Linked DNA regions of Homo sapiens: all the other regions are linked to region 1. Evidence: fine-mapped QTL for protein levels in blood plasma. Region 1 holds a variant in brackets. A gene starts in each other region. All regions are shown on their forward strands.

Region 1 (6,254 bases):
AACATCAAGCGATATGAAATTAACTGAGTTCTATAGGTGCTTAAGTCATAAATACTGCTAATACTACTAGTTGTTTGTTGCCCATATTTTTAAATGGCAAAAAATGCTAAATTTCACTTGAAGGTTAGTGTAAATAAAGATGTAAATTTCTCTTCATCCAAGGTCATCAATGCCCTGAATTCTCTCCACAAATTCTTTGAGAATCCACAGATCCAGGTGAAGAATCCTGCCTCTTTGTACTGACAAGCAGGAAGAAAGAGCCTCTGCCATGAATAAAGCAAATAGGTGAGGGACTGGAAGGAGTGGTCATCAAGGCTGCAGAAATAGGTTTAAGGAAAAAAAAAAAAAAAAAAGTCTGCTGAACTCTTCTGAGGCTCCAGCAAGAGCTGGAAACCCTACATTCCTAACTAATCAGCCCCCCAGTGGGACTTTCTCCAGCCACACCCAGCAGGCTGGATTAGGAGTAGACAGAGTTTAAGATCTTAGAGGAACAGAGAACACTGTGAGGGGCAAGAAGAGAATAGAAGTGTAAAGTTTATAGCTGTGGTCAGAGTAGATCTTGAAAAGCATTCTGGAAGAGAAGCAGTTCCTTCCGAGTGATGACACAGTCATGAAAGCAGGATGCTACAACGCCGTGGAGGTGAAAGGGATGTATGGAACAGAACTTAGGAGGCTATGTTTCCTAAAGAATAGTGTTCTCCAAATGATCCATTTGAAAATAAATTATTCCAACACACACTACAGTTGTCCTTCAGCATCTATGGGGGATTGGTTCTAATACCCCCTAGGGATACCAAAATCCAGGGATGCTTAAGTCCCTGATACAAAGTGGTGTAGTATTTGCATACTCTCGCATACTTTAAACCTCTAGGTTACCTATAATACCTAATACAAAGTAAATGCTACGGAAATAGTTGTGGTACTGCTTAAGGAATAATGACAAGAAAAAAAGTCTGTACATGTTCAGTATAGATGCTTTTGATTTCCCATATAATTTTTTTTTTTCTTTTCAGACAGTTTTTTTTCTTTTCTTCTCACACTCTGTTGCGCAGGCTGGAGTGCAGTGACACAATCTCAGCTCATGGAAACCTCTACTTCTCAGGTTCAAGCAAATTGCTTGTCTCAACCTCTCGAGTAGCTGGGATTACACATGTGCACTACCATGGCCAGCTAATTTTTTGTACTTATAGTAGAGCTAGGGTTTTGCCATGTTGGCCAGGCTGGTCTTGAACTCCTGACCTCAGGTGATCCATCTGCCTCAGCCTCCCTAAGTGCTGGAATTACAGGTGTGACCCACAGCCCCAGCGTATTTCCCATATATTTTGGATCCATGGTTGGTTGAATTCACAGCTGTGTAACCCATGGATAGAGAGGGCTGACTGTATTTGCAAACTAACATTTGAAGACATCAGTGTCCCAGCCACAAAACTAAGAAATGAATGGTAATTACAATTTTAATCATTGTCTATGGTATCATGCCTATGTAAGAGAAAAAAAAACAGTTATTCCCTGGTTTAGGAGTATAAAATTGGGTCTAGTGAGTATAAAAATATTTTTTAAAATATAAAAACATAAAAATATAATAAATATAAATAAATTAAGTTTAAAAATATAAGTATTTCAGTGGTGGCTCACACTTGGGAAGCCAAGGCAGGTGGACTGCCTGAGCTCAGGAGTTCGAAACCAACCTGGGCAACACGGCAAAATCCTGTCTCTACCAAAAATATAAAAAATTAGCCAGGCATGGTGATGCGCACCTGTGGTCCCAGGTACTCGGGAGGCTGAGGTGGGAGAATCACTTGAGCCTGGGAGGAGGAGGTTGCGGTGAGCCAAGATCTGCATCACCACACTCCAACCTCAGTGATAGAGTGAGACCCCGTATATAAAAAATATATACATGTAAACTTTTCAAAAATCAATCAAAGGAATATATATATGTTGAACACCTGTTATCTGTAAGTCACTGTATATATACTAGACACCATGGTTGGGGGGGACGCATTTCCTTAATTCTATAAATTTGTTTTCTGAACTCCAGAAAAGTTTAATGCATTGGGAGAGAGAAAATATACCGGTAAAAAAGACACTACATACTGCTTCGTGAAGATGAGTGTTTGGTACATGATGGAGACCACTGGTTCTCCAACTGTACTTCATGACACCCTATGATGTCTTCAGGACACCCCAGAAGGCAAGGGAAAGTGGAGTAAGTAGGGAGCTAGGACATCACTAGCTCTTCTTCCAACCAAAGCCTTGTTTTAACTAAGAGTCAGCATGGGATCTCATCAGAGGGAAAAAAACTGACCTATTCTATACTAAAAAGAAAATGTTAAAGTCTGGGCATGGTGACTCACACCTGTAATCCCAGCACTTGGGGAGGCTGAGATGGGAGGATCAAGTGAGCCCAGGAGTTCAAGATCAGCCTGTGCAACACAGTGAGACATCTGTCTCTACAAAAACTAAACTAAAAAAAACAAACAAAAAAATTAGCCAGGTAGGGTGGTGCATGGGGAGGCTGAAATGGGAGAACAGCTTGAGCCCAGGAAGCAGTAAGCCATGATGGCGCCACTGCATTCTAGTAGGGGTGACAGAGAGAGACCCTTTCTCAACAAATAAATACATACAAACATAAATTAATTTAAAATGTAAAGTTTAACAGCCATTGTTACAGGCAATAAAAACAAACCACAATGAGCAGGGAAGGTCAGAGAAGACTCTAAAAAGGACAGATGTGGGCTTGGTTTTGAAAAAGTATCTAAAACTCTAGTTAGTAAGGTAGATTCTTCACGTTGGGATTAAATCCAGGAGTAAAAGAAGAAGGCACAGGGGGCCGCGGTGGCTCACGCCTGTAATCCCAGCAATTTGGGAGCCCAAGGCAGGTGGATCACAAGGTCAGGAGTTCGAGACCAGCCTGGGAAACACAGTGAAACCCATCTCTACTAAAAATACAAAAGTTAGCAGGGCATGGTGGCGCGCGCCTGTCGTCTCAGCTTCTCGGGAGGCTCAGGCAGGAGAATCACTGGAACCCGGGAGGC[A/G]GAGGTTGTGGTGAGCCAAGATCGCGCCACTGCACTCCAACCTGGGCAACAGAGTGAGACTCCAACTCAAAAACAAACAAAAAAAGAAGGCACAAAGTTGGTGATGTCTAACACACAGAACATGCCAGCTTAGTAGGTCAATAAGTAGATTAACATTGGGAAATAGGCCGGGCGCGGTGGCTCACGCCTGTAATCCCAGCACTTTGGGAGGCCGAGGTGGGCGGATCACGAGGTCAGGAGATCGAGACCATCCCGGCTAAAACGGTGAAACCCCGTCTCTACTAAAAATACAAAAAATTAGCCGGGCGTAGTGGCGGGCGCCTGTAGTCCCAGCTACTTGGGAGGCTGAGGCAGGAGAATGGCGTGAACCCAGGAGGCGGAGCTTGCAGTGAGCCGAGATCCCGCCACTGCACTCCAGCCTGGGCGACAGAGCGAGACTCCGTCTCAAAAAAAAAAAAAAAAACATTGGGAAATAATGAGAGATAAGGTTGAAAAAGAGAAGTTCCACTGGGAAGGGCCCTGTATAGCATCCCAACTTTATTCTGTAAACAACAGTGGCCACTGAAGATTTTGAGCAAGGGATGAGATGATCTAATAAAAGCAATGTCTAAGAATTTCTTTATGTCAATGCCCAAGATTGACTGAAAATGAGAAATCTGGAAGACAAGTTGTTTAGGAGATTATAACAATATTTGCCTTGGTGGAAGAAAACAAGGACCACACTTATTTTCTATTTTCACTGTTAAATCTTTTGGTACACACGTTTTGAACTTTTTACCATGTGTGCATATATAATTTTTAAAGTAAAGTTGTAAACAGAAAAAAAAAATCTACAGTGAGATACTACTTCTTACTCTCCCACTAGGATGGGTATAATCAAAGAGACAGACAATAACAAATGCTGGTGAGGATGTGAAAAACATAAGAAACCTCAGACACTGCTAGTAGGATTGTAAAATGATACAGCTACGTTGGAAACAGCTATGTAGGATTGTAAAATGATACAGCCACTATGCCCAGGAAATCAGCCTGTGCAACAGTGAGACCCCAACTCTATTTTCAAAAAATAATAAAAAGAAAACAAAACAGCCCAACAGTTATGTAAAAGGTTCAACATAGATTTAGCATACGAGCCAGCAATTATCTTGCAGGTATGTGTATGTATGTATGAGTATGCATACACACACACCCCCATGAGAATTGAAAACCTATGTCCACACGCAGTTTTTTTTTTTTTTTTTTTTTTTTGAGATGAAGTTTCACTCTGTCACCCAGGCTGGAGTGCAGTGGCGTGATCTCGGCTCACTGTAGCCTCGGCTTCCCAGCTTCAAGTGATTCTCTGCCTCAGCCTCCCTAGTAGCTGAGATTACAGGTGCACGCCACCACACCCAGCTCATTTTTGTATTTTTAGTAGAGACAGGGTTTCACCATGTTGGGCAGGCTGGTCTCGAACTCCCGGCCTCAAATGATCTGCCAGCCCCAGCCTCCCAAAGTGCTGGGATTACAGAGGCATGAGCCACCACACCCGGCCCACACAAAAACTTTAAAAGTCACTGTTCGCAGCAGGATTATGTATAAATCAAAAGGTGGAAACAATGAAAATGTCCACCAACTGATGAATAAACAAAATGTAGTGTACCTGTGTAACTGTATAATGGAATATTTGGCCATGAAAAAGAAAGAAGTACTAATACATGCTACAGCATGGAAGAAACATACTAAGTGAAACAAGCCTATCATAATATATATGGCCAGATGCGGTGGCTCATGGCTGCAATCCCAGCACTTTGGGAGTCCGAGGTGGGCAGATCACTTGAGGTCAGGAATTCGAGACCAGCCTGGCCAACATGGTGCAACCCCGTCTTTACTAAAAATATAAAATTAGTAGGTGTGGTGGCAGGCGCCTATAGTCCCAGCTACTCAAGAGGCTGAGGCAGGAGAATCGCTTCAACCTGGGAGGCAGAGGATGCAGTGAGCTGCAATCATGCCACTGCGCTCCAGCCTGGGCGACACAGTGAGACTCTGTTTCAAAAAAAAAAAAGAAAAAAAAAGGCTATATATTATATGATTCCATTAATACGCAATGTCCAGAATGGGCAAACCTATGAAGACAATAAATCAATAGTTGCCTGGAGCTGGGGAAAATTGAAACAAACAGAGAGGAACTGCTAAGGGGTTCAGAGTTTCTTTTCAGGGTGATGAAAATGTAAATTGATTGTAGTGATGGTTGCACAATGCTGTGAATATATTTTAAAAAATGGGCTGGGAGCAGAGGTTCATGCCTGTAATCCCAGCACTTTGGGAGGCTGGGGCAGGAGGATCATTTGAGGCCCAGAGTTTGAGACCAGCCTGGGCAACATAATGAGACCTCATCAAACAAAAAATAACAACAAAAATTAGCCAGGAGTGGTGATACACATCTGCAGTCCCAGCTTAATCAGGAGGCTAAGGTGAATCACCTGAACCCATGAGTTTGAGGTTATGGTGAGCTACGATGGCGCCACTGCACTCCAGCCTGGACAACAAAATGAGACCCTGTCTCAAAATAGAAGAAAAAAAAAAACCTAATTTTCTCCCTATCTCAAATGAATGATTAAATTTTCTAGCACTACGATAAAGTGAGATAAAATAGAAAAAAAATCCCTAAGAGAAAAATATATCCTATTTAAGTAATAAAAAGCAGTATTTATTTTCCTTACTAATACATTCTGTTTGTGAGAGGTACAAATTGGATTCTTCAGTTAAAATTCAAGGGAAAACATTTATAAGATAAAATACATCATCTTAGTTTGACTAAGCCCATTAAATAAGATAAAAGGCACTGCAATTAGTAACCTTTTTTTTTTTGAAACCAGGGTCTCACTTGGCTCACTGCAGCCTCAATCTCCCTGCGCTCAGATGATCCTCTCACCTCTGCCACCCGAATAGCTGGGACTACAGGTACATACCACCGTGTCTGGCTACTTTTTGTATTTTTTTTGTAGAAACGGGGTTCCACCATATTGCCCAGGCTGGTCTTGAACTACTGGGCTCAAGCAATTCATCTGCCTTGGCCTCCCAAAGTGCTGAGATTACAGGAATGAGCCACTGTACCCAGCCAGTAATTTTATGTTTTTAAAGCAATTTTCTTAAGCTCTAAATTAGCTAACTTAAAATTTGAACTGAAAATTGTTTAGAAATGGTATCAGTTAAAATGGTGCTGTATTTTACTTCAAAATC
Region 2 (5,840 bases), not on the chromosome of region 1:
GTAATCCCAGCACTTTGTGAGGCCGAGGCAGGCAGATCACCTGAGGTCAGGAGTTCAAGACCAGACTGGCCAACATGGCGAAACACCGTCTCTACTAAAAATACAAAACTTAGCTGGACGTGGTGGTGCATGCCTGCAGTCCCAGCTACTCGGGAGGCTGAGGCAGGAGAATCGCTTGCACCCAGGAGGCAGAGGTTGCAGTAAGCCAAGACTGTACCACTGCACTCCAGCCTGGGCAACAGAGTGAGACTCTGTCTCAAAACAACAACAAAACAAAACAAAACAAAACAAAAAAAACAAAGAAGAGAAAAGAAAAGAAACAAAACAAAAAACAGAAAATAAAAAACAAGGAAGGCCTAGATGGTTTTACAGATGATCTCCAGCAAACATGGAAGTAACTGATCATCTCCATCTTAGACTAACTGTTCCAGTGAACAGCTGAAAAAGGAAATACTGCCTCAACTCACTTTACGATGTCTTGATACCAAAACCAGACGAGGATAATAATACGAGGCTAAAAAAAAAAAAAAAAACCACCCAATCCAGAATTGTATATGAAAAAAATACATCACGCAAAGTTGAGTTTAGTCCAGAAAATACAAGAGTGGTTTAACATTTAAAAATGAATTAATGTAATTTGCCACATTAACAGATTAGAGGAGGAAAACCCTGTGATCATATTAATGCATTCAGAAAAAGCATTTTATAAAAATTCAACATATAGCACACTAGGAATGGGAGGGAGCTTTCTAAATCTGATAAACATATCTACCGAATGCTCCCTGCAAACATCATACTTAATAATGGAACACTGAGAATGCCTCCTATGCTTTTTTTTTTTTTTTTTTTTTTTTTTTGAGACAGAGTTTCGCTTTTGTTGCCCAGGCTGGAGTGCAATGGCTCGATCTTGGCTCACCGCAACCTCGGCCTCCTGGGTTCAAGCGAGTCTCCTGCCTCAGCCTCCCAAGTAGCTGGGATTACAAGCATGGGCCACCATGCTCGGCTAATTTTTTTGTATTTTTAGTAGAGACAGAGTTTCTCCATGTTGGTCAGGCTGGTCTCGAACTCCTGACCTCAGGTGATCCACCCACCTCGGCCTCCCAAAGTGCTGGGATTACAGGCGTGAGCCACCATGCCCAGCGCCTCCTATGCTTTCATTCAAAGGAAGTAAAAGCAAGAGAAAGCAAGTCCAGGGAAGTAAAGCAAGGAAACGAAATCAGCCGGGCACAGTGGCTCACGCCTGTAATCCTAGCACTTTGGGAGGCCAAGGCAGGTGGATCAGGAGTTCCAGATCAGCCTGGCCAACATGGTGAAACCCTGTGTCTGGTAAAGATACAAAAATTAGTCAGGCGTGGTGGTGGGTGCCTGTAGTCCCAGCTTCTTGGGAGGCTGAGGCAGGAGAACTGCTTGAACCAGGGAGGCGGAGGTTGCAGTGAGCCAAGATTGTGCCACTATACTCCAGCCTGGGTGACAGAGCCAGACTCTGCCTCAAAAAAAGAAATCAAAGCTAAAAAGACTGGAATAGAAGAAACAAAATGGTCATTACTTGCAGATGATAGGATTGTGTACGCAGAAAATCAAAAAGAATCCACAAAGAGAACCCAAACATAATTATTAGACTTAATATGAGAGTTTACAAGGTTACTTGATACATAGAAATCCATTGTTTTTCTATGTACCAGCAACACACAGTCTGAATGGGAATTCAAAAGAAGGTAGCCAGGCGCAGTGGCTCACAGGCTCACGGGCCAGCACTTTGGGAAGCCAAGGCGGGAGGGCCGCTTGAGTCCAGGAGTTTGAGACCAGCCTGGGCAACATAGCGAGACCCTGTCTCTACAAAAAAATTACAAAATTAGCCAGGCACTGTGGCGCCTGCCTGTAGTCCCAGGTGTTTGGGAGGCTAAGGTGGGAGGATCACTTGAGCCCAGGAGGCTTCAGTGAGCCATGATTGCGCCAATGCACCCCAGCCTGCACGACAGAGCGAGACCCCGTCTCAAAAAAAGAAATCAGATTGATAAATGCTATGATATTAAAATTAAGACTTTCTGTTTATCACATGATACATCAGCAAACTGAGAAGACAAGTAACAGGTAGGCCGAAGACATACACCCCAGGGATTGGTGTGGAAAATACAGAACACCTGCAAAGTGTAAGCCAAGACATGCACGGGCATTTGACAGAAGAAATGAAAAGTGCTGCAATATGGCCGGTGGTCAAGGAATGCCGATTCAAAACCCAGCAGGGCACCATTTCACACCCACTGTATGCGCAGAAACTCTCAAGTCTGCTCTCTGGTGTACGTGAAGACGTGGTGCAGCAGTGGCAGTGGGGGTGTCCGCTGGGATGCCAGCATGGAGAGCTACGTCTTCAGCCCAGCAAACGTGAAGCCCACGTCCCACTGACCCAACGAGTCCCCTTCCAGCATTGAGAAGCCTGGCACACAGCAAGGAGACGACACCAGATCAGTTGACGCTGCCTTCCCATCCCTTGGTGAGGGGACCCGGCCATTGCAGGATAAATCCAGCACGACTCCCCTGACATAAGATGTTCCGGTTCCCCAAACCAGCCTAGATCCTTTCTGGTTACACCAGCTTCAGACCAGGGGCTGCCATAGCCACGCCTCTTATCTGCTCAGAAAGCGTAGAAGGTGCATATGCAGGCCATATACACACATATTTATGAAAATGGTGCTGCCTGTGGATGGATTTATTTTCTTTTTTCTTTCTTTCTTTTCTTTTTTTTTTAAAGACAGAGTCTTGCACTGTCACCCAGGCTAGAGTGCAATGGCACCATCACGGCTCACTGCAGGCACCAACTCCCAGGCTCAGGCGATCCTCCCACTTCAGCCTCCCAAGTAGCTGGGACTACAGGCTCGCACCACCATGCCTGGCTAATTTTTAAATTTTTTTATAGAGATGGGGGTCTCACTATGTTGCCCATGCTGGTCTAGAACTCCTGGGCCCAAGTGATCCTGCTGCCTTAGGCTCCCAAAGTGCTGGGATTACAGGCGGGAGCCACGACGCCCAGCCTGATTTATTTTCTTCTGTGGAAAGGAAGGAGAAACCCATTCCCCATGCCAGATTGCAGGCGTCTGTCTCATCCGGGGCCAGCAAGGACATGTGTGTGTGTGTTGGGGTAGGCATGGGGGGAAGGACAGGGAGAGGGAGAGAGGCCAGCTGGCTCCCCCAAGCCTCCCCTCCTGGAGCTTCTAAATCCCTCCCTGGCTCCTTCAAGGCTGCCTGGCCTTCCTGTTGGGGAGAGACCCCTCGCCGGCTGCTCACTCGCTTTTTGGTGGTCCTTCCCACGGGCCTGCCTGGTCTGCCTCCACATCCTCAGCGGCTGCAGGTGAGAAGCTGTGGATCTGGGGCCCAGTGGTCCAGAGCGTGGCCCGTGCCAGAATGCCCAGGTTCAAATCCCATCTCTGTGGAATGCACTCTGAAGAAACGACGTCAGGTCATGGCCCTGGGCAAGTTACCCACCTCTGTGCCCCATTTCTCTCCATGCAGGTTGGAAAGAATGACACAGCTGCTCAGGGAAGCACCCATACCCCGAGTCTGCTGGGCCTTTGAGCTCCAGGGCCAACACCTGGCCCTATACCCTGGCCGCCCCCAGGGCTCCAGCCACCTGAGCCAAGCTTCTCACCCCCAGGCCTCCCCAGCCCCATCACCATTTCCTCCTCCCTCATGGGCCCCTCAGTCTTACCGTCCTCCCACTTCCGCCAGCCCCTCTGTGGATGGCCCTGCCACAGGGGGAACAGTGCCCCAGCAGAAAAGCCCCAGGGTCGCCTGGATTCTCCTGCCTTCGCCTCCTGCCCTGGGTCCAACGCACAGTCTTCAGAATGCTGCCTCCCCAGAGCGCCTCTAGAACGCGCCCGCCTCTCTCCATGCCCATGACCACCACTGGACCAGGCCTCCCCACATTCTCTGCCCCAGTGCCACCAGCTTGCAGTTGCCCATGGCGAGACAAGTTCAAGTTCTCAAGCCTGGCCACAAAGACCCCACCTGATTTGCTGACCTCCGCCACACCCTGGGAGACGGCCCTTGACCAACCTTGTGTTCCAGTCGGTGGGAAACACTGGTTTTTCCTCAACGCCACGTGGGCATGTCACGTCCAGGCCTGGCCTGGGGTAGGCCTCAGCTCCATCTCCTGCCCAACGCCTGCCAAGGTTCATGGTTCAAGGTCATGTAGCCTGACGGTTAAGTGAAGGGGCCCTGTGATTGACTCAGCCTTGCCACATACTAGCTGTGTGACTTTATTCAAGTTTCCTAACCTCCTGTGCCTCAGTTTCCCAACCTGTGTTTGTTTCTGGATGGTGCCAGTGCCAAGCCCAAGCCTGGCATCCAGTAGGTGCTTCGTGCCAGGTTATGGAATGCCCACCCAATAGGAGGGCGCTGCCGTCTCTCACCTGCCAGGTGCCCACGGTCAGTACTCCATCATGCCCGCTGCGGCCAGCAGAGGGCAGCAACATCCTGCCCTGTGCCATTGGGCAAAGGGGCGGGCGGAGAGAGGCTGGGCTGCCTGGCCGGGCTTGTTGGGATGAGTCGGACTGGGCACGATTGCATTGTGGGGAGGGAGGCTGGGGCTCTGTGAGACGTGCTCCTGGCACCGCCAGCTGCTACTTGGCCCTCGCCGGTGGCCCACCAGGTAGGCAAGAGCTGGGGCAGGCTTGGGCTTGGGCTTGGGGTGCAGGGGCTACCAGCCTCAGGGCAAGGCATCAGGGTCTCAGGGCCAACTGGCTGGGGTCAGGCAAGAGCGCTCGGGTGTCGGCCCAGCCTGACGACGGCACTAGGTGTCTGGGAGCACGGTGTCCCCCAAGTGGTAGCCCTGGGGTTAGGAGGTGGGGAACCATGTTTCTTCCCCGAAATGGGAAAGCCAACGCCAGCCTCGGGCAGGGTACAGGGTAGAGAGGCTGCCCGCCTGGCTCCCCACCCCCACAGCCACCCAACTGGCCCAGCCAGGTGACAGCAGCCCACTGCCACCTTGCCCTGGAGCCTACTGCTGCCGTGCTGTGGGGGAGGCAGAGACCCCATCCCCAGTGCACCTGCTCCTGTGCCACTGGCCAGGGTGGCCTGTGAGGGTGACAGGGGGTCTAGCTGCTAGGTGCCCCTCCCTTCCCCATCCCCTGCATGGATGGCATCTAGGCCAGCAGGACGGTGCTTCAGAGGGTGGGGTGGACAGCCCCGGCCTGTGGACCCTCTGCCTCAGCCCATCTCAAGCAGCCTCCTCCCGTGGTCCTGCTCGCTGCCACCATGCTGTACCTGGCACCACTTCACCAGTCCCCAGGGGCAGGGCTGGGCTGGGGGTGTGGAGGAAGATCTTTTGGACAAAGGCAGGCATTGAGGGCCAGGACTGGCACTTCACCCAGGCCCCAAGGCTACCAGCCGGCATTTGCAGGGGCTCCAAGGTCCACCCCGTGCCCTTCACAGGGACCCGGGGAGCCAGGGAGGGGCATGCTTAGTGACACAGGGGTTGCAGGGCCAGAGGGGGAGGGCTGGCTGGAGGAAACCCCGGCCCTTTGTCCCCGGATCCCGGGGGTGGCTCCCTGAGGGTGGGAAGTGGCAAGGAGCCCCCTGTCCAGAACAGCCCAGTGGGGGTGACAGCACTAGCGAGTGGGGCCCTGGCCTGGCCTCTGGACAGAGGGAACATTGTTGTGGTGGAGGCAGGGCTGCCTTGGCCTGGCCACTATTGACAAAGCTGCCAGCTGTGAGGGAGCCCGGTCGCTAGGCCCTGGGCGCCACCCCCACCGCCGCCCCTCCTTCCCCAGGCCAGCTCGAATGGGGCTGAGCCTCGACTGTCTCCCTCCCACTCAGGACAATGCCCCCCCGCAGCCATCTCATGC
Region 3 (6,254 bases), not on the chromosome of region 1:
ATTGAAGCACCATTCAGTGTTAGCATACATTAGCTAAGAGATTTCATTAAACATTAAATCAGTCTGTGATTTAAATTAAATCAGACTGTGAGCAGTCTGTGGTCTATGTGCCCTATACGGCAATTAGATTTTAATCTCTAGAAATAAGACTTACAAAAGGCGAGAACACTATCTAGTATTTGGGTGATAACCTAACACAGCCACAAAAATGCCATGACCTCTCAATCATTCCCCACCTCTGGAACCCAGCTGAGAAGTCTAACAAGCTATGGAAACCTTAAAGGAAGTACTGCTCACACAGCACCCCGGAATCTGCTTCCCATGACATGGGGTACTAAGGCTTGAAGGAAGCATGCTTATTTAATGGTAAGTATAAATTATTTCTTTTTCTGAACATGCAGTTTAATATGAGGCAAAGTGCAAGGCCTCTCTCTGCCCAAGGGAGTTCTCCAGCTGGGACTGAATGCATATCCAGGGATGACGCTGTTTGTGGATTGATTACTGCTGCCGTGGTGGTTTCCTTGACTGTGTAGATTGCTGCAGCTACACGTGCAGGCAGGAAACCAAATGGAGACCACCACCCTCCAGTGTAAACTCTAACATCACACCAATTTTTCTTTTTTGACTCTCTGAATGCATGAATAGAAAAATAATAAAGCAACAGAATCCACTTCAAATTGAAAGACCTGGCACCTCTACCACACATTAGGAGGTATGGAAGCATGGGCAAGTTATTTAACAATAATTATGATCATTTCTGTTGTGGGTGCTGTTAAGCACTTTGCATACTTTAATCCTTAAGCTTAGATTTCTTCATGTATAAATTGAGGATAATAATGCAACTACTTCATTTGCAAGTTGAGGCAGCAGGGTCAAAAAGAACACAGTTTCAACACAGACAGACGTGGGTTAAATGCCAGCTCCAATTTCTACTATTTGATCTCACTGAGCTCCCATTTTCTCATCTCTAAAGTAGAGATGAAGCCACTTACCTCAAAGGACTGTGGTGGGGAATTGAGCAAGACAGTGTTAAATACCAGTTGGTGTCTGTATCGCTAGACAGTGCACAATAAATGTTTATACCTTCTCTCCTATTATACACATGAACTGCTTCTGTTAATATTCATCAGCAGCAATTCAATGTCCATAGCAGCAATTCAATGTCCATAGAGTCCAAAGATGCATTTCCTTTCATAACAATGAAAATTTTTCCCAGAACAAGCTTAATATGCCAGATACTGGCCCAACAGCTCTATGTCTATGAACTCATTTAATTCTCACTACTGTTCAGTGGGGTAGGTACTACTACTGTCATCCCCATTGTACAGATGAAGACACTGAGGCACAGACTTTGGGTTACTTGCCTAGATTCAAACAGATGGTACCAGAGCTGGCAGCCTGGCTCCATAGCCTGTCCTCCTAACCAGGCTGCAATAGGGCTTAATGGGTCAATCTGTTTGAGATTCCATGCTTGGATGTAATCTCTTCTAGAGATAAGCACTGGATGCTCTCACAAACCGCAATGTGTTGATGTGACTAACTTTTCAACTTCTGAAATAACATTTTGTGTATTTTCTTAGTATTCCTAAAAAAAAACCCTTTACACTTTAAATAAGGTGCCTATAACTAGTTCATCTTGTTCTGCATGCTGAAATACCATAAATAAATGCACTTCTCTCTTCAAAGATTATGTAAATAAATCTTACATTAAAACATACCCCTGAGCTTTGGTTTAAACAATAATTTCAAGTCCAAATTAAACATTTATGTATGTGTATATATATTTAGCAGGAAAGTCTTAATATGACCTATTTTGTTAAACTAATGACATCTATACCCAATACTCCAAATATTCCTCTTATTTATAATATTCGCTGTGTAACAGTCACACAGCAGTACTGCATGGTACTTCAAAGTACTATTCCTTTTACAAGTTTAACCAACTCAGGTATTAAACATCAATGATGATAATCCATAGCTCTGCTTAAAAGGAATCTCTCGGGAACAGCTGAGAAAGAAAGGTTAAAGATTTCTATCCTTCAAAGTAGGGCACTGCAGCTACCTATAAATCATGCTCTTTGTTTATTAAGATAATTAGGCCCATCAGTACACTTAACTTTTAGACTCAACAATTGTCTGGCATGAACAATTTCCACTTTTTCTAAAACAAAGGGGATGTGTTCAAAAAGCGGTCCTCTGCATGCTCTCTGCACAATGCATGCTATTTTAAAACATGATTTATGGGTCTAATTCCTGGAGCTGCCTTGAAAAATATAGTGGGTTGTTCCTCCCATGCTCCCTATTAGGAGAAGACACTCCAATTTGAAGAGTGCACTCTGTTTCAGACTTCAGGCCGCTATATCATGTCAGCATTTTCAGTAAATACTGTTCAATTGGACTTTAAACAAATGGAATGGAGGGCCACAGCTGCAGCCACTGCAGAGATAAAGTTATCCAGCCGGGAGGCTTACATAAGAGGTGCAGGACAATCAGGGTGAAATCCAAGTGTCATTATCTGAATCCTATTTCTTGAGACTTGCCTACATTCTTAAAGTGTATGAATTCACACGCCCAGAGCTCGTTTTATTTGCCTTAGGGCATAAAACACCGGGTCGACATATAAGTTGTTTTTTCCCTAAAGGACTAGGCTCCAATTATGAAAAGGTTGGCAACTTCTGCCTAGGGGAAGAGTAAAGCGGGATGCGCGGGAAGCCTGCAGGCCTGAAAGAAATGGCTCGCCCAAAGATCCATCGCAGTGCTGGCCACACTCCCCAGAGGAATTAGGATGGAGGTGACAAGACCCTGCCCAGCCCCTTCACCCCAACGTAAACACAGAGTCAAGGAGCTTGGAATGAATAATTAGCACGCAGCAGTCGAAATGCCCTAGGAGTACCTGTCCTCTCCCAGCATATTTCCAACTGGCACATTCGTGAGATGCTGAGGTCAGCCAGCCCTGGACTCCAGACCTTCCAGCTGCCTTGTCCCCTTCTTGGCACCCCGCACTCCCTCCTCGAGCTGGAACTCTGTTAACAAGAGGTGCCACCCTCGGCTTCCCACAAGAAGATAAAAACGAACCTCTCCTTCCCACGGCTCCCTCCAACTTCAGAAACTACAGTCAACTTACTGGGACTCAGGAGGCAGGGAGTCTTCCTGGCGGACGGCGCTCGGAGGCAGCCTCTGCAAACTCCGGCGCGCAGCGCCGCCGCCCCGGCACAGCCCGGCAGCAGCGGCAAGTGCAGGACCAGGCGCCGCCGCTCTGCACCAGTCGCCTTGGCTCAGCTGTGCCGGGCGCCGGGCATTCGCCAGGGCACACGACTCAGCGAGGCGGCGGCTGGGACTGAGGCTACTGCACCCGGCCGCGCGGACCCGAGCGCTGCAGCTGCCTCCAGCCCCGGAGCGCGGCGCTCCGAGCCCCTGGTGGGTGTCTCTGGCTCCAAGGGAATCACGGCTCAATTAGGGACCTGCCAGGAGAAAAACCGATGCGCTGCCGCAGGCAGAGCCGCCAGCCCGCCCCCAGTCGGCTGGTCACATCGCGGGCGCGCAGACGGACAAGCGAGCGGGAGGGTACCGCAGCCAGCACTCGCCGCCGCGCCGCGGAGAATGACAGGCGCCGAGGCGGAGCAGCCGCGCGGGGAGCGGGGCGCGAGTGCGCATGATCCTGGCCGCAGCGGCACGTCACGGGGGAGGAGGGGCGGGCCGCGGGGCGGGAGGGGGCGAGCCGGGCGGGGCCGGGCTGGGGGTGCACACGGGTGAGGACCGGCGCGGGGCCTGGCTTGCTCGCGGGAGGATGCAGGAAGTCTTCCCTGCCCTGATTTTATGAACCCAAAGCTCTGTGGTTGAACTTGTCCCAGGAGCCCATTGTCCTTTAAACAGCACCGTTTAAGCGGTCCTTAAGGTCCCTGGGGAGCCCACAAAAGCCAATTTAATTCAGGTTACAGCTTAACCGTAAAGGGTTGCCATTTGGGGGACAGTGATCTTCTATTGTGGCTGTGCATTAAAATAACTTGGGGAGCTTGTAAGAACCCTTTGCCCCGGACGCATCCCAGAACAAGTACAGGACAATGTCTGGGTGGGGCCCACCCAGGTATCAGTAGGTATCTAAAGATACCAAGGTACAGCAGTGCTTCTCAAACCCTCAGTGTGTGACAGAATCTCCTGCGGATTGTGATGAGATGCAAGATTCAGATTCAGTAGGCCTGGGATAATGAGGGAGACATCCTTTCTAACAAGCTCTCGGAGGATGCCAATACTGGAGGTCCAGACCCCCATCCTTGCTACTTAACGTGTGATCTAGAGCCTGGAGCAGAGCTTCTGAAACAGTTGGCCTGTCTGACAGTCACCCGAGGGGCTTATAAAAAACGCAGAACAAATGCCCAGGCCGTACCCCCAGTGATAGTGGTTCTGGCTCAGCCCCTGGCAAAGGTGGGCTTCTAGAATTCCATTTGGCATCAACACTCTAAATAAATCTGATAGGGGTTTTGTTTGGGCCAAACTTCAAGTTTACACTAGCAACCTGGAATTGGGAATAAACTTTTGCACTTACAAGGAGACAAACCAAGTCTAGAACTCAGGACATCTGACTTTGAGTCAGGGATTCTAAACCAACGGGTGCTTTATCTGACTAGTCCCAATTTTCTAAAATTATGATGCATTACTTAGCAAGAAAAAACATATAAATGGCATTAAATATACACACACACACTCTATTGAACACTCGTTACACATATCATTAATGGGAGCTTAAAGGTGGCTGGGGAAGAAGGCTCATCAGGAGAGGGTAAGGAAGACAGTGATGGAGTAAGGGATGTTGTTAGTGTGTCGCAGAGGGAAGGGTATGTGGGAGGAAACAGTTTAGACTCAGCCTACAGCTTGGAAAAGCCCATTGGGGAAGCGGACCCAGGAACCAGACTTGGCCTCTTGCTTCAGAGCATGGTATGAAACTCAGGTGTTTAAGAACTTATGGAGTATAACATTTCACATACGTTACCTCACTGAAATTTCACAGTGGTCTCTTAAGTTGAATAATAATATAAAAAAGTATCCCCATTTTATATATTAAAGAAGACATCCTGGACATGAGTTGACTAATGGTGGAACTTGAATAAAAGTAGGGATCTCCGTGTTGGACTTGGCTTCTACAACTCTGGAGAAGAGGACAATTTAGACCTTATAAAGCAAATGGTTTCTGTGTTTACTAGTCACATCTTTTACAGGCTGTGCCTAAATTTGGAGTTAGGAAGGCTTTCATTCTTGTGGGGAGGAAATACATTTTGTGTCTTCCAGTTTTGCTACACTTGTTAGGATACACTTAGAACAAAATGTTCTAAGAGCAACCCGGTCCTAGGACATTGCAGTTCCACAGTGCAGGCTTCATTGAGGAGTTTGAAGGGCAATATTCACGTTATCTGGTGACAAGTGTAATTACCATCCTCATTTTACCCAGGCTCAGAAGCTAAGTGATTTAGACAAATTCACGAATGCAGGCAGGAGCCAATCTCTAGCCTCTGTCCTTTTCCTCTGCTCTCTTTTCACCAAGTAACATGCTGAGGATTGTTTTTCATTTCCAAATTTTTCATATCAGGATTTGCCATCAGTAAATTGGAACTCAAATGTATTTCAAAGCCACTCCTAGATAGAGAACCAAAAGTGTCAGGATCAATTCTTGTGCTTGTGGTAGATGCTATGGGCTATACTCTCGGTCTGAGTAATGTTTTGGAAGCAAGTATGTGATAGTTATATACAGTCTTCTAATCCAGAGGTTTGACTGGGAATGCTACACTGCCAACTGTGGTCTACCTGCCTTTATCTTTACTTCTTATCTAACTCTTCCATTACAGCCATTCTTCGGTGTGATTATGAAATTAATTCCTAAGAAAAAAGAATTCTTTGAAGGAGCTGGTACATCACAGGTTGTAAAACTTACTTCAGTTTTTAATAAGAAATATATATATATTTTAAATATGAAGGTAGCAGAATAGTCATGTTGGGACCTTTAGAAGAACCCAAAGTTGTCATTGTTTTCTTAGGTGCCCGACATTTCAATCAAAATATTTACATAATTCATTTGTATATTGATTTCAAGAGATCCAAGATTTAATTAAATAAAAAGTTACTATTAATTGGTGTGTCCTACTGCTATTGAATTTTGAACCATTGTTATTGGCATTAAATACATGAAATATATAATATTGTCTTGATACTATATTGACTGTGCTTTAATATTGACTGTGTCTTGATATTGACTGTGTCTGTAT
Region 4 (5,830 bases), not on the chromosome of region 1:
TAACAGCCCCGCCCCACCCCCAGGGCCCAGCAGGTGGGACCTGGGGCCACATGACCCCTCCCCCACCAGCCCCTGCCCTGCCCAGCTCACCCAGTGCGAGTAGATCCGTGCAGTTGTCGCCTCTGCTCATGGCTGCAGATGTGAGAGTCCACAAGCACACTGCTCTGAGCCGAGGGTCAGCCTGGTTCATGGCCTGACGGTTTCCACAGCACTTCTTACTCCCATCCCTCCTCAGGCCCGTACCCCGCAGCTCAGCATCCCCAATACTGGTGGTGGCAAAGTCTCTGGTTTCCGGGGAGGAAGGGGGAGGGGAGGGATGAAAAAAAGAACAAAGACCCCGCCCTGTGCCTGCACCTGCGCCACTCCTGCAGCTCCTGAGCTTCCCCCACCCTCGCTGCCCAGGCCCTTTGCCCCCCTTGAGAAGAGAAGCAGGCCTGTGGGTAATGTGCCACGGGCAGTTGAGTCCCTGAGGACTCTGAGGGCGGGGGGTGGGGGCAGAAGTGGTGTGAAGCAGGACTAACAAGGACAGGAACACCCCTTCTGCTCCAGGATGCCCACCTTCCTCCCTGACTCTGGTCCCAGAAGAAAGATGTATTCCTCAATGAGTATGGTATAAAGTGGAAGGGTCGGGGGAGCCTCCTGGTACCTCTGATCCCATCACACCCTAAGGCTGATCTGAGAGGATATGTGTTTAGATGATGCTTGTTATTGTTTCATTGGGGGCATTATAATTTGGGGGACACCCCCAAACCTCCCCTTTCAACCCACTTCATCCAAACTGTCTGTAAGAACTGTCACTCTCAATAATTAATTGCATTTTAAAACTCTTTGCTGTAGGACTGTCCTGGGAAACTGAGCCCTATCTTGCACATGTTCACTTCAGCGGGTGTAGTACCTGCCATACCTAGAGCTAACTCCATCACGTGCAAGGCTATTGATGTAGGAAGAGGGATTTTAAGTTGCAAATATAAACCTGAGACCAGAAGTCAGAGATGTGTTTTGTCTAGCCCATACAACATTTTTTAAAAGTTTAAAATCAGTGCAGTGGCATGCCAACAATAGGGATGGCAGAAGTCCTGCCCCTTGAGTTGCAGGCAATAAGGGGGTGCATTGTCTGTAGAGAATTTAAAAAATAAAAATCAGTCCTCTTATTATCACCATGTTCCAGAAATTCTGAAAAAAAAAATCAGTGATAAAATTATCCTCCCTGAAAAATATTTTATGGATCTAAGTTTTATATTTTTTTTGAGACAGGGTCTTACTTTGTCTCCCAGGTTGGAGTGCAGTAACACAATCTCAGCTCACTGCAGCCTTGACGATCTCCCGGGCTCAAGTGATCCTCCCATCTCAGCCACCTAAGCAGCTAGGACTACAGGCATGTGCCACCACACCCAGCTAATCTAGTTCATTTTTTGTAGAGATAGGTCTCCCTGTGTTGCCAGGCTGGTCTCAACTCCTGACCTCAAGCAACCTGCCCACCTCGGTCTCCCAAAGTGCTGGAATTACAGGCATGAGCCACTGCGCCCAGCCCAGATCTAACTTTTAAATTGCTGTAGTGGACCAGGTGCAGTGGCTCATTCCTGTAATACCAGCACTTTGGAGGCCAAGGCAGCAGGAGGATTGCTTGAGGCCAGGAGTTCAAAACCAGTCTGAGCAATATAGTGAGACCCTCCATCTCTACCAAAAAACAAACAAAAACAGTAGACAGGCCTGATGACACAAGCGTGTAGTCCTAGCTACTTGGGAGACTGAGGTGGGAGGATCACTTGAGCCCAGGAGTTGGAGGCTGCAGGGAGCTATGATTATGCCACTGCACTCCAGCCTGGGCGACAGACGGAGAGACCCTGTCTCTACAGTAGATGCACAAATACCATTGTCTTACAACTGCCTACAGTATTCAGTATGGTAACATGCTGTAAGCATTGGGGCCTAGGAGCACCAGGCTATACCATGTAGCCTAGATGGGTAATAGGCTACACCATCTAGGTTTGTGAAAATACACTCTATGATGTTTGCACAATGACAAAATTGCCTAGTGACTCATTTCTCAGAACATATCCCTGTTGTTAAGCAATGCATGGCTGTTTTTATGCTGACATGATTATATTTACAAAGTTCAAGGAAAGAAAATATTCACTGAGTTTATTTCTTGGCCCTTATTATTCATTTTATAATTGCCATTGAGAATAATTTTGTCATATAAAGAATGTTTAAATTTGTTTTAATTTTATTTATTTATTTATCTGAGATGGAGTCTCCCTCTGTCGCTCAGACCAGACCGCAGTGGCACAATCTCGGCTCACTTGCCCAGGCTGGAGAGAAGTGGCGTGCCTGGCCATAAAGCATTTTTTTAAATGATCCACTTGAAAAATAAAACTTTGTTCCAGGCATGGTGGCTCATGCCTGCAATTCCAGCACGTTGGGAGGGTGAGGCAAGAGGATCGCTTGAGCCCAGGAGTTCAAGAACAGCTTGGGCAACATGGCAAAACCCCGTCTTTACCAAAAATACAAAAAATTAGCCAGGTGTGATGGTGCACGCCTGTGGTCCCAGCTACTCGAGAGGCTGAGGTGGGAGGATTGCTTGAGCCTAGGAGGTAGAGGTTTCAGTGAGCCAAGATCAAGCCTCTGCACTCCAGCCTGGGCAACAGAGTGAGACCCTGCCCCCCACCCCCAAAAAAAGAAAGAAAACAAGAAAAATTTGGGTCTGGGCATGGTGGCTCACGCCTGTAATCCCAGCACTTTGGGATGCTGAGGTGGGTGGATCACCTGAGGTCAGGAGTTTGAGAGCAGCCTGGTCAACATGGTGAAACCTCGTCTCTACTAAAAATACAAAAATTAGCCGGGCATGGTGGCAGGTACCTGTAATCCCAGCTACTCTGGAGGCTGAGGCACAAGAATTGCTTAAACCCAGGAGGTGGAGGCTGCAGTGAGCCAAGATCACTCCACTGCACTGCAGCCTGGGCGACAGAGCAAGACTCCATCTCAAAAAAAAAAAAAAAAAGAAAGAAAGAAAAATTTGGGCCAGGTGTGATGGCTCACACCTGTAATCACAGCACTTTGAGAGGCTGAGGTGGGAGGATAGCTTGGGCCCAAGAGTTTGAGACCAGCCTAACCAACATAGTGAGATTCCCATCTCTGCAAAAAATTAAAAAATTAGCGAGGCATGGGGGCATGTGTGCCTGTAGTCACAGCTACTTAAGAGGCTGAAGTGGGAAGATTGCTTGAGCCTGGGAGATAGAGGCAGCAGTAAGCCATGATTGTGCCACTGCACCACTCCAGCCTGGGCAACAGAGTGAGAGCTTGTCTCAAAAAAAAAAAAAAAAAAAGACAGAAAAGAAAGAAAAATGTTTTTTAAATGATCCGGAACAGGCAAGGTGGCTCACACTTGTAATCCCAGTACTTTGGGAGGCTGAGGCAGGCAGATTCCTTGAGGCCAGAAGTTCAAGACCAGCCTGGGCAATACCCTGGTCTCTACAAAAAACAAACAAACAAACAAACAAAAAACAACAACAAAAAAACACACAAATTAGCTGGGCATGGTGGTGTGCACCTGCAGTCCCAGGTACTCAGGAGGCTGATCCAAGAAATTTGGGGCTGCAGTGAGCCATGGTCTCACCACTGCACTCCTGACTGGGCAGCAGAGGGAGACCCTGTCTCTCTCTCTCTCTCTCACACACACACACACACACACACACACACACACACACACACAAAGACCACTTGGTGTCAAATATGCTAAGTATGCCACTGATTCCTTGTCAACAGTTAAAAATTGGGAGATTTCAAATTTTTAAAATTCTAATTTGTTGATTCCTTCAAAAAAAGATCTGGCAATAGTGCCCTGAGTTCTCTAAAGGCAATAATCAGTTGGGGACCACTTATCATTATTATATCTGGCCTGAACCCCTTATTTACACCGACTGTGCCAACTGGCTTAGATTCAAGATTTCTATTACCCTGCTTTGCGTACCCAGGCTGTCACTGGGTCATCAGCTAGACCACTGGTCCCCAGCCGTTTTGGCACCAGGGACAGGTTTTGTGGGAGACAATTTTTCCATGCACAGGAGTATGGGAGGAGGGGATGGTTTTGGGATAAAACTGTTCCACCTCAGATCATCAGGTATTGTGGTTTTTTTGTTCTGTTTTGTTTTTTTGACAGGGTCTCGCTCTGTCACCCAGGCTGGAGTGCAGTGGTGCAATCTTGGCTCACTGCAACCTCGCCTCCTGGGTTCAAGCAATTCTTATGCCTCAGCCTCCCAAGTAGCTAGGATTACAGGCATGCGCCACCATGCGCAGCTAATTTTTGTATTTTTATTAGAGACTTTTTTTTTTTTTTAACCATATTGTCCAGGCTGGTCTTGAACTCCTGGCCTCAAGAGATCCACCCACCTTGGCTTCCCAAAGTGCTGGGATTACAGGCATCAGCCACTGCACCTGGCCTAGATTTTCATAAGGAGCCCACAACATCACGTGCATGCACAATTCACAATAGGGTTCGTGGCCCTATGAGAATCTAACACTGCACTGATCTGACAGGAGACAGAGCTCAGGCGGTAATGCCAGGATGGAGAGTGGCTGTATATACAGATGAAGCTTCCCTCGCTACTCCGCCGCTCACCCTTGCTCCTCCGCTGCTCACCTCCTGCTGTGCGGCCCAGTTCCTAACAGGCCATGGACCAATAGTGTTGGGGACCCTTGAACTACACTATGATAACTCCCCTTGGTGAGGGTTTCTCCCTGTCCTGCCCTTCCTCCTCCTTTCAGGAAAAACAAGAAGACACACCCATATTTCATTTATTTATTTATTTATTTATTTATTTATTTATTTATTTAGAGATGGAGTCTTGCTCTGACACTGAGGCTGGAGTGCAGTGGCGCGATCTCTGTTCACTGCAACCTCCGCCTCCCAGGTTGAAGCTATTCTTATGCCTCGGCCTCCTGAATAGCTGGGATTACAGGTGCTGGCCACCACACCTGGTTAATTTTTGTTTTTGTTTTGTTTTTCTGAGGCGGTGTCTCACTCGTTTGCCCAGGCTGGAGTGCAGTGGCACGATTTCGGCTTACTGCAACCTCCACCTCCCAGGTTCCCGTGATTCTCCTGTCTCAGCCTCCCAAATAGCTGGGACTGCAGGCGCCCGCCACCACACCCGGCTAATTTTTCTATTTTTAATAGAGACGAGATTTAGCCATGTTGGCCAGGCTGGTCTCAAACTCTTGACCTCAGGTGATCCTCCTGCCTCGGCCTCCCAAAGTGCTGGGATTAGAGGCATAAGCCACCGATCTTGGCTTCATTCATTTATTTAACACACATGATGTACTGATTGCCTGTTTGTATGCCAGGCTCTGGAGATAAAAATGTGATGAATGGAAATGGTTTCATGTCAGGGAGCTCTTGATCTAACTAGACAGATGACCCAGTGTATCCCAATTAAGAGACCATGGAAGGCTCTGTGGAACAGAAGGAATACCTGCCTGCCTGGTGAAGTCATGGAAGACAAGGATGGGGAAAGGCTGTTCGACAGAAGGTATAGAGACAGGCAAAAAACTGGTGAAATCACCACCCTGCCTCTTACCTGATTAGTAGCATACTTAACCTTGCTGAATTGCAGTTGCCTCATTCTTTGAAAGAGCTTAACTATATTACCCTTTTGGGTCATTTTAACCATTCATTAATTTCATTCAACAACGATTCATTGAGTGCCTGCTATCGCCAGGCGCCACGTGCTGTGCTAGGCTCTGGGAGTAAAATGGTAAAGAAAAAAGAGAGGTGGCTCCTGCCCTTGTGGAATTTAGGACCAGCCTAGCTCAAGGGTCTCCAACACCCGGCCAC
Region 5 (6,228 bases), not on the chromosome of region 1:
GGATCCTGCCCAGGCCCCCCCAGAACCCACTGCTCTCCCCCAGTCTTCAACAGGAGGGAGGCCCCTGGGGCCGCATGAACCTGTGTGTCGGGGAGGGTGGTGCTCTCGGAGAGAGCCGCTGAGCTGAGGGTCCTGGGGGAAGGTGTACCCCACCCTGAACAGAATGGTGCCCTCACCTGGGCCCCAGCCAGCCAGGGTCACAGCGCTGACAGTGGCCAGTATCTGGCTCACAGGCCTCCCCATGTCGGCAGTGAGGGCACTGCTGTTCGCAGCTCTCGCCAAAGGTGCCAGGCAGGCAGGGCTGCTGGCACTGGGTCCCGTTCCAGCCCGGCTCGCAGGACTCACAGCTGCCTGTGTCTGGAGAGCACGGCTCATTGTGTTTGCAGCGGCCACAGCTGGGAAGAGAAGGGCTTCGTGGGAACAGTGGGGGTGGATGGATGGAGCGCCCACCCCCTCCTACCCCTGTACTCCACGCAGGCCTTCGGGGGCCCTGGAGAGTGTTCGGGTCCCACCTGGGTCAGGCAGGTTTGAGCCTCAGTTTCCCCACGTTGTACAATGAGGACAAATGAGGGCTCTTACAGGATCCCATCCCTTTCCTTCCAGGCATCTGCTCTGTGACCGTCTTTCCCTGGGTCCCAGGACCATCAGGAGCCAGCAGCCCAGCCAGGGCAGGCGAGTCACCACCAAGCTCTGAGTCCCATTTGCGAGGTCTGCCAGGCCTTCCCTCCTGCTCTTTTCACTTTTCCTTTTTCCACACTGAGCCGTCCCCAGGTCTGGCATGAATGGGACTCAGTAGTGTCTTCTACCCCATCACACGAAATGCAAAAAATGTAAAGTGTTTTCACCCAGGGGTCCTCAAACCCTGGGCCATGGACTGGTACTAGTCCGTGGCATGTTAGGAACTGGGCGACAGCGTAGAGATGACCAGCAGGGGAGCCTGACCGCCTGAGCTCCGCTGCCAGCCAGATCAGTGGTGGCCTCAGATTCTCATAGGAGCGCCAGTCCTATTGTGAACTGCGCACGGGAGGGTCCAGGTTCCATGCTCTTTACGAGGATCTAATGCCTGATGATCTGTCACTGTCTCCCATCACCCCCAGATGGGACCCTCGAGCTGCGGGAAAGCAAGCTCAGGGCTCCCACTGATTCTATATTATGGTGAGTCATATTATTATTTCATTATAGATTACAGTGTAATAATAGAAAAATTGTCTGCCATGAAACCAGTCCCTGGTGCCAAAAGGTTGGAGACCACTGTTGTCACCAATATAATTTCACATTTGCCATATCTTAATTTCCCATTGATGCCTAATAGTTACCTGAAGTTTCTCCCTCAGATGCTTAACTAGCTGGGATCATATACTTGGGTCAGACCCATTAGTAGGGGAGAAGAAGGGCAGTTTATAAAAGCCATTTAGCTGATCCTGACCAGCATTTTTATTTCTTATTTTATTTTATTATTATTTTCTTCAAGACTGAGTCTCACTCTGTCGCCCAGGCTGGCGTGCAGTGGCGCGATCTTGGCTCACTGCAACCTCCGCCTCCCGGGTTCAAGTGATTCTCCTGCCTCAGCCTCCCAAGTAGCTGGGATTACAGGCGCCCAACACCATGCCCGGCTAATTTTTGTATTTTTAGTAGAGACGAGGTTTCACCATGTTAGCCAGGCTGGTCTCGAACTCCTGACCTCAGGTGATCCGCCCGCCTCGGCCTCTCAAAGTGCTGGGATTACAGGCGTGAGCCACCGCGCCCAGCCAGGGATGAAATTTCTTACTGTGAGTGCAGCCAGTCAAAGTTTGAAAGCCACTGAGCCCTAAAGGGACCTTGCTCAGGACCCTTGGTCACTCGATCCACTTATTTATTATTTTTTTTGTAAGAAACCATTTTTTTAATTTTCTTTTTTTAAATATATTTATATATATTTTTTTATTATTATACTTTAAGTTTTAGGGTACATGTGCACATTGTGCAGGTTAGTTACATACGTATACATGTGCCATGTTGGTGTGCTGCACCCACTAGCTCGTCATCTAGCATTAAGTATATCTGCCAATGCTATCCCTCCCCCCTCCCCCCACCCCACAACAGTCCCCAGAGTGTGATATTCCCCTTCCTGTGTCCATGTGATTCCATTGTTCAACTCCCACCTATGAGTGAGAATATGCGGTGTTTGGTTTTTTGTTCTCGCGATAGTTTACTGAGAATGATGATTTCCAATTTCTTCCATGTCCCTACAAAGGACATGAACTCATCATTTTTTATGGCTGCATAGTATTCCATGGTGTATATGTGCCACATTTTCTTAACCCAGTCTATCATTGTTGGACTCGATCCACTTATTACCTACATATGGCTTGCTAGCAGTGCTAGTATATTTTGCACAGCAGTAATCAATGAAATGAGCAGGTGAGGCTGGACCTGGGGCAACAAAGCGTTTTTAAAAGTTTTTGTTTTGTTTTGTTTGAGACGGAGTCTTGCTCTCTGGCCCAGGCTGGAGTGCAGTGGTGCGACCTCGGCTCACTGCAACCTCCGCCTCCAGGGCTCAAGCGATTCTCCTGTCTCAGCCTACCGAATACCTGGGACTACAGGCGCAGCCCGGCTAATTTTTGTGTTTTTAGTAGAGACGAGGTTTCAGCATGTTGGCCAGGATGGTCTCGAACTCCTGACCTCAGGTGATGCACCCGCCTCAGCCTCCCAAAGTGCTGGGATTACAGGTGTGAGCCACCCCACCTATCCGACTTTTCCCCTTTCTCGTTCCTCTGCTTTGTATGTTTTTTGAGAGGAGCACCGCGAAGCCCTGACCCCTCCTCCCGGCGCCCCGCCGCGGCCACCTGTCTCCGCTCCGCCCCGCCCGCTCACAGGTCTCCGCGCAGCCTCGCTCACCTGTGTCCGCCTCCGCCCCCTCCCCCGACCGCTCACCTGTGCCCGCCCCGCCCCCACCCTGCCCGCTCACCAGTTTCCACCCCGCCCCCTCCCCGCCCACCGGTGTCCGCCCCGCCCACCGGTGCCCGCCCCGCCCACCGGTGTCCGCCCCGCCCACCGGTGTCCGCCCCGCCCACCTGTCTTCGCCCCGCCCCCTGTCTCCGCCCCGCCCCCCTGTCTCCGCCCCGCCCCGCCTGCTCACTTGTGTCCGCCCCCGCCCCGCCAGCCCACCTGTCCCCGCCCCGCCCGCTCACCTGTGTGCGCACTGCACCCCGTGGCTGCCTGCCGGGCAGGGCAGCTCGCAGCGCGCTCCGCGGAAGCCGGGCGGGCAGGTGCACTCGCCGGAGGCGGCGCTGCAGCGGCCCCGCACACACTCGCACTGCTGCTGGCATTCGGGACCCCACCAGCCCGGCCGGCAGGCGCAGCGGCCGGAGTCCTGCTCGCACGGGGAGCCGTGGCAGTTGCAGCGGAAGCTGCAGCGGCGCCCCCACCAGCCCGGCTTGCACACGCAGGCGCCCGTGGCCTGCTCGCAGCGCGCCGCCGCGGTGTTGCACTGGCACGGGCGGCGGCACGTGGACGACCACCAGCCGGGTTCGCAGTGGCACACGCCGGTCGCGGGGTCGCAGCGCCCGTGGGGGCCGCAGGCGCACGGGAACTCGCAGCGGGCTCCCCAGCGGTCGGCCTGGCACTGGCACGCGCCCGTGGCTGGCTCGCACTGGCCGTGCGGGTGGCAGGGGCAGCTCTCACGGCAGTCGGGGCCCCAGTACTGGCCCGGGCAGCCTGCGGGGGTGGGGACGGGAGGGGTCAGCGGGCTCAGGGCCGCGCGCAGACCCTTACCCTGCGTCCCCTTCCTCAAGGAAAAGGGGCGCTGGGCCCATCCTCCAAGAGCCGGGGACAGACCCTCAGAACATCCGGCAGCCTGTCCTGGGCAACACTCACTTCCTGCTCCGCTCTGACCTACAGAAAACCCTTAGCCATTAGTGGGAGGCTCAGCCTGCCACTTCACATTCCAGAACACACTCAGAGATCCTGAGTGGGCAGGGGACTTGCCCAGAGCGTGGCACCGAGGTTGGTGGGCCTTCCTCCATGCCTGCTCCTCCCTGCCGAGATGGATCTCTGCTGGGCTGGAGGAGAGCTGGCTTTCTCCTGATCTCAGGCCTGGATACTGCCCGCCAGGGTGTCGGGAGAAGCCACCTTTCCCCTAGTGATTCCTTGATTCCTGATGCCCACCCTCTGGCTCTCCTGCTTCCCAACCCCTTTCCCTTCCCTCTCTTTCTGCCAGAGAGGGCAGAGAGCCCAGCCAGGGGCCCCCTTCCATCCACTGCCCATGTATAAGGTATATGTGGGAAAGGCAAGTAATACACTCATTTTACAATGAAGGGGAATCACAGGTTTTCTGAGAAGTGGAAGAGGAAGATGCTCAGGTGGGCAGTGCTTTGTGGATGTGGGTAAAAACCCGGTGACTCAGGTCATCTCCCGGGAGTGTGTGTCACTTCCTGTCTCTGGACCGCAATTCCTCAGTGAAGCTGGGGGGGATTCTGGCCCTGCTGTCCTGAGGCTGCATGGCTACCTGCCTCGCCTGCTCCCACACCACTGCCCCCGTACCCAGCTCTGCCCAGCAACTTCATCTGGCCCTTGAGACTCACGGGAGCTGCAGTGGGCCCCAAAGAATCCAGGCTTGCATCGACAGAGGCCCGGCTTCACACACACCTCGTCTTTCTGGCAGGCGTCCGGCCCCTCACAGATGGCTGAAAGACACCCCACCCAGGTTGGAAAGACGGGAGCAGGACCAGGGGACACCCCTGCCCTCTCACTGGCTCCAGGGGCCATGCCTCCTCAAGAGGTGCCCCTTCAGGCCTGGGGGTGCGTCACAGGAGAAACCCTGACTCCTGGTATCAGGAGGGGCAGGCCCCATGGGGTAGGAAGGAAGGGTTGTCACTGGGCTACGGCCTCCCTTCTCCTTGGCTGAGGGTCTGTCCTGGCTACTCACGGATGGTGCATTCTTGATCCTTCTGCCTCCAGCCTGCGCAGCACTGCAGCTCAGCAGAGGGGCTGTGGGGCAAAAAGGGGTCAGCCGGACATGGTGGGGGGTGCAGCCTGGCCCTGAGGAAGGTGGATCACTGTCTCTGGCTGCAGTGGGGGAGGCTGCCTTAGCCCCCTGGGGAGGCCTAATGGATCTTTACAGCTAGGGTCCCCAGCCCCTCCCCTCTCCTTCCCTGACCCTTCCACCATCTGCCCTGGCTGGCCACTACCTGCCAGACCGCCATCAGCAGTCCCTTCCTTTCAGCCTAAGCCCCCTTCCTAGTCTCCTCCTTCCCCTAACGGCCTCAACACCGGTTCAGCCACCCGCATCAGACTCCCACGAGACCCACCTGCTGGCCACACGCATCAGACTCCCACGAGACCCACCTGCTGGCCACACAGACGTGCTGCCCTTTGGGGTCCAGCTCGGACCCCTGAGTCCCCCGAGTCCAGAGCAGCAGCAGCGGGAGCAGCAGCCCCAGCCCCATGGCAGGCAGCTCGGTGGGAGCGCTCGGGTTCGTCTGGCCCCCACAGCTCCCAACCCCCTCCCTGCTTCCTCTCAGGGCTTTTCCTGAGGAAACCAGGCCGGAGGGGCGGGCTGCCACGAGGCACCTCCCTGAGAGGGAGGGGGTGGCTGGAAAGACTGACACTCAAAAAAAGAAAGGGAAAGAAAGGCAATGGCAGGGCTGACTGGCCTGGGCCTGGAAGGGCCAGAAGAATGAAGTTGCAGGTCCCTGGGTGCCGGGGCCAGGGAAGGGGGTGGACTGAGGCTGGGAGCCACGGCTTTCCATCAGGCCACACTCCCAAAGCAAGGCCTGAGCTGCAAGAAGCCACCCCACCCAGTGACTGAGCAAGGAGACCAGCGAGGACCCCTCAGCCTGCCTCTGCTCCTGGCAGGGTTGGGAGGTGGCACAGACATGGACAGACAGGCGAGGAACAGTTTCTGTGTATTACGGGCAGTTCTTTATTACATGAGCTCAGGCCGTCTGCACAAAGCCCTGGGAGCTAGGCAGTCAGCTCTCATTTCATGGATGGGGAAACTGAGACTCAGAGAGGCACTCTTATATCTGGCCCCAGAGGCTCGGTACAGAGACGTAGAGAGGGAGGCGGGCTGAGACCCCGTCCTGCCCTGATGCAGGCCAGGATTGGGGCAGACCCCTGGCGAGGGCTGTGAAGGCGGGAGCCCTGTCCTCATTTGAGGCCACACATCCTTCCACAGCCAGACCCCTAAGTCAGGCCTCTGGGGCGGCTGAGGCCCCCAGACAAAGGTGTTCGTGGAGGGCAGAACAG

Direction of the effects. Positions count from the first base shown, and alleles are read on the strand shown. Strength reflects both the effect of a copy and how common the allele is.
With allele A in place of G in region 1, the plasma level of the protein whose gene starts at base 4,590 in region 2 is higher (weak association).
For the plasma level of the protein whose gene starts at base 3,602 in region 3, A is the high allele of the variant in region 1 and G is the other (weak association).
As copies of A replace G in region 1, the plasma level of the protein whose gene starts at base 268 in region 4 goes up (moderate association).
As copies of A replace G in region 1, the plasma level of the protein whose gene starts at base 5,461 in region 5 goes up (moderate association).

Evidence for each region. A credible set is the group of variants that fine-mapping cannot tell apart. PIP is the posterior inclusion probability: the model's chance that the variant is causal. The UK Biobank Pharma Proteomics Project read protein levels with antibody pairs (Olink). The fine-mapping took linkage between variants from a reference panel, not from the people measured, so its PIPs are less certain.
Region 2: it holds the start of PLXNB3, and the variant in region 1 is the best candidate, but not a certain one, in a credible set for the plasma level of the PLXNB3 protein (UK Biobank, PIP 0.75).
Region 3: PAG1 starts here. The variant in region 1 is the best candidate, but not a certain one, in a credible set for the plasma level of the PAG1 protein (UK Biobank, PIP 0.79).
Region 4: SIT1 starts here. The variant in region 1 is the best candidate, but not a certain one, in a credible set for the plasma level of the SIT1 protein (UK Biobank, PIP 0.74).
Region 5: it holds the start of SCARF1, and the variant in region 1 is the best candidate, but not a certain one, in a credible set for the plasma level of the SCARF1 protein (UK Biobank, PIP 0.74).

The regions. Positions count from the first base shown.
Region 1 is chr12:111,532,519-111,538,772 of GRCh38, forward strand. All of the region lies in intron 5 of ATXN2 (ataxin 2), which reads right to left. Among named protein-coding and RNA genes, the nearest start is that of ATXN2, 64 kb to the right of the region's middle. The variant A/G (reference allele first, on the strand shown) is at 3,036.
Region 2 is chrX:153,759,660-153,765,499 of GRCh38, forward strand. PLXNB3 (plexin B3) reads left to right here and starts at 4,590. Exons shown (of 36, transcript NM_005393.3): 1 at 4,590-4,645; 2 at 5,812-5,840. PLXNB3-AS1 (PLXNB3 antisense RNA 1) reads right to left here. Exons shown (of 3, transcript NR_199696.1): 2 at 4,051-4,190.
Region 3 is chr8:81,108,467-81,114,720 of GRCh38, forward strand. PAG1 (phosphoprotein membrane anchor with glycosphingolipid microdomains 1) reads right to left here and starts at 3,602. Exons shown (of 9, transcript NM_018440.4): 1 at 3,125-3,602. RefSeq lists an enhancer at 3,048-3,117 and a silencer at 3,608-3,737.
Region 4 is chr9:35,650,664-35,656,493 of GRCh38, forward strand. It overlaps SIT1 (signaling threshold regulating transmembrane adaptor 1), which reads right to left and starts at 268. Exons shown (of 5, transcript NM_014450.3): 1 at 91-268. The coding sequence starts at 190. RefSeq lists a silencer at 1-48.
Region 5 is chr17:1,640,272-1,646,499 of GRCh38, forward strand. SCARF1 (scavenger receptor class F member 1) reads right to left here and starts at 5,461. Exons shown (of 11, transcript NM_003693.4): 1 at 5,326-5,461; 2 at 4,907-4,968; 3 at 4,563-4,664; 4 at 3,171-3,696; 5 at 177-395. The coding sequence starts at 5,426. RILP (Rab interacting lysosomal protein) reads right to left here. Exons shown (of 8, transcript NM_031430.3): 8 at 5,879-6,228. The coding sequence ends at 6,171.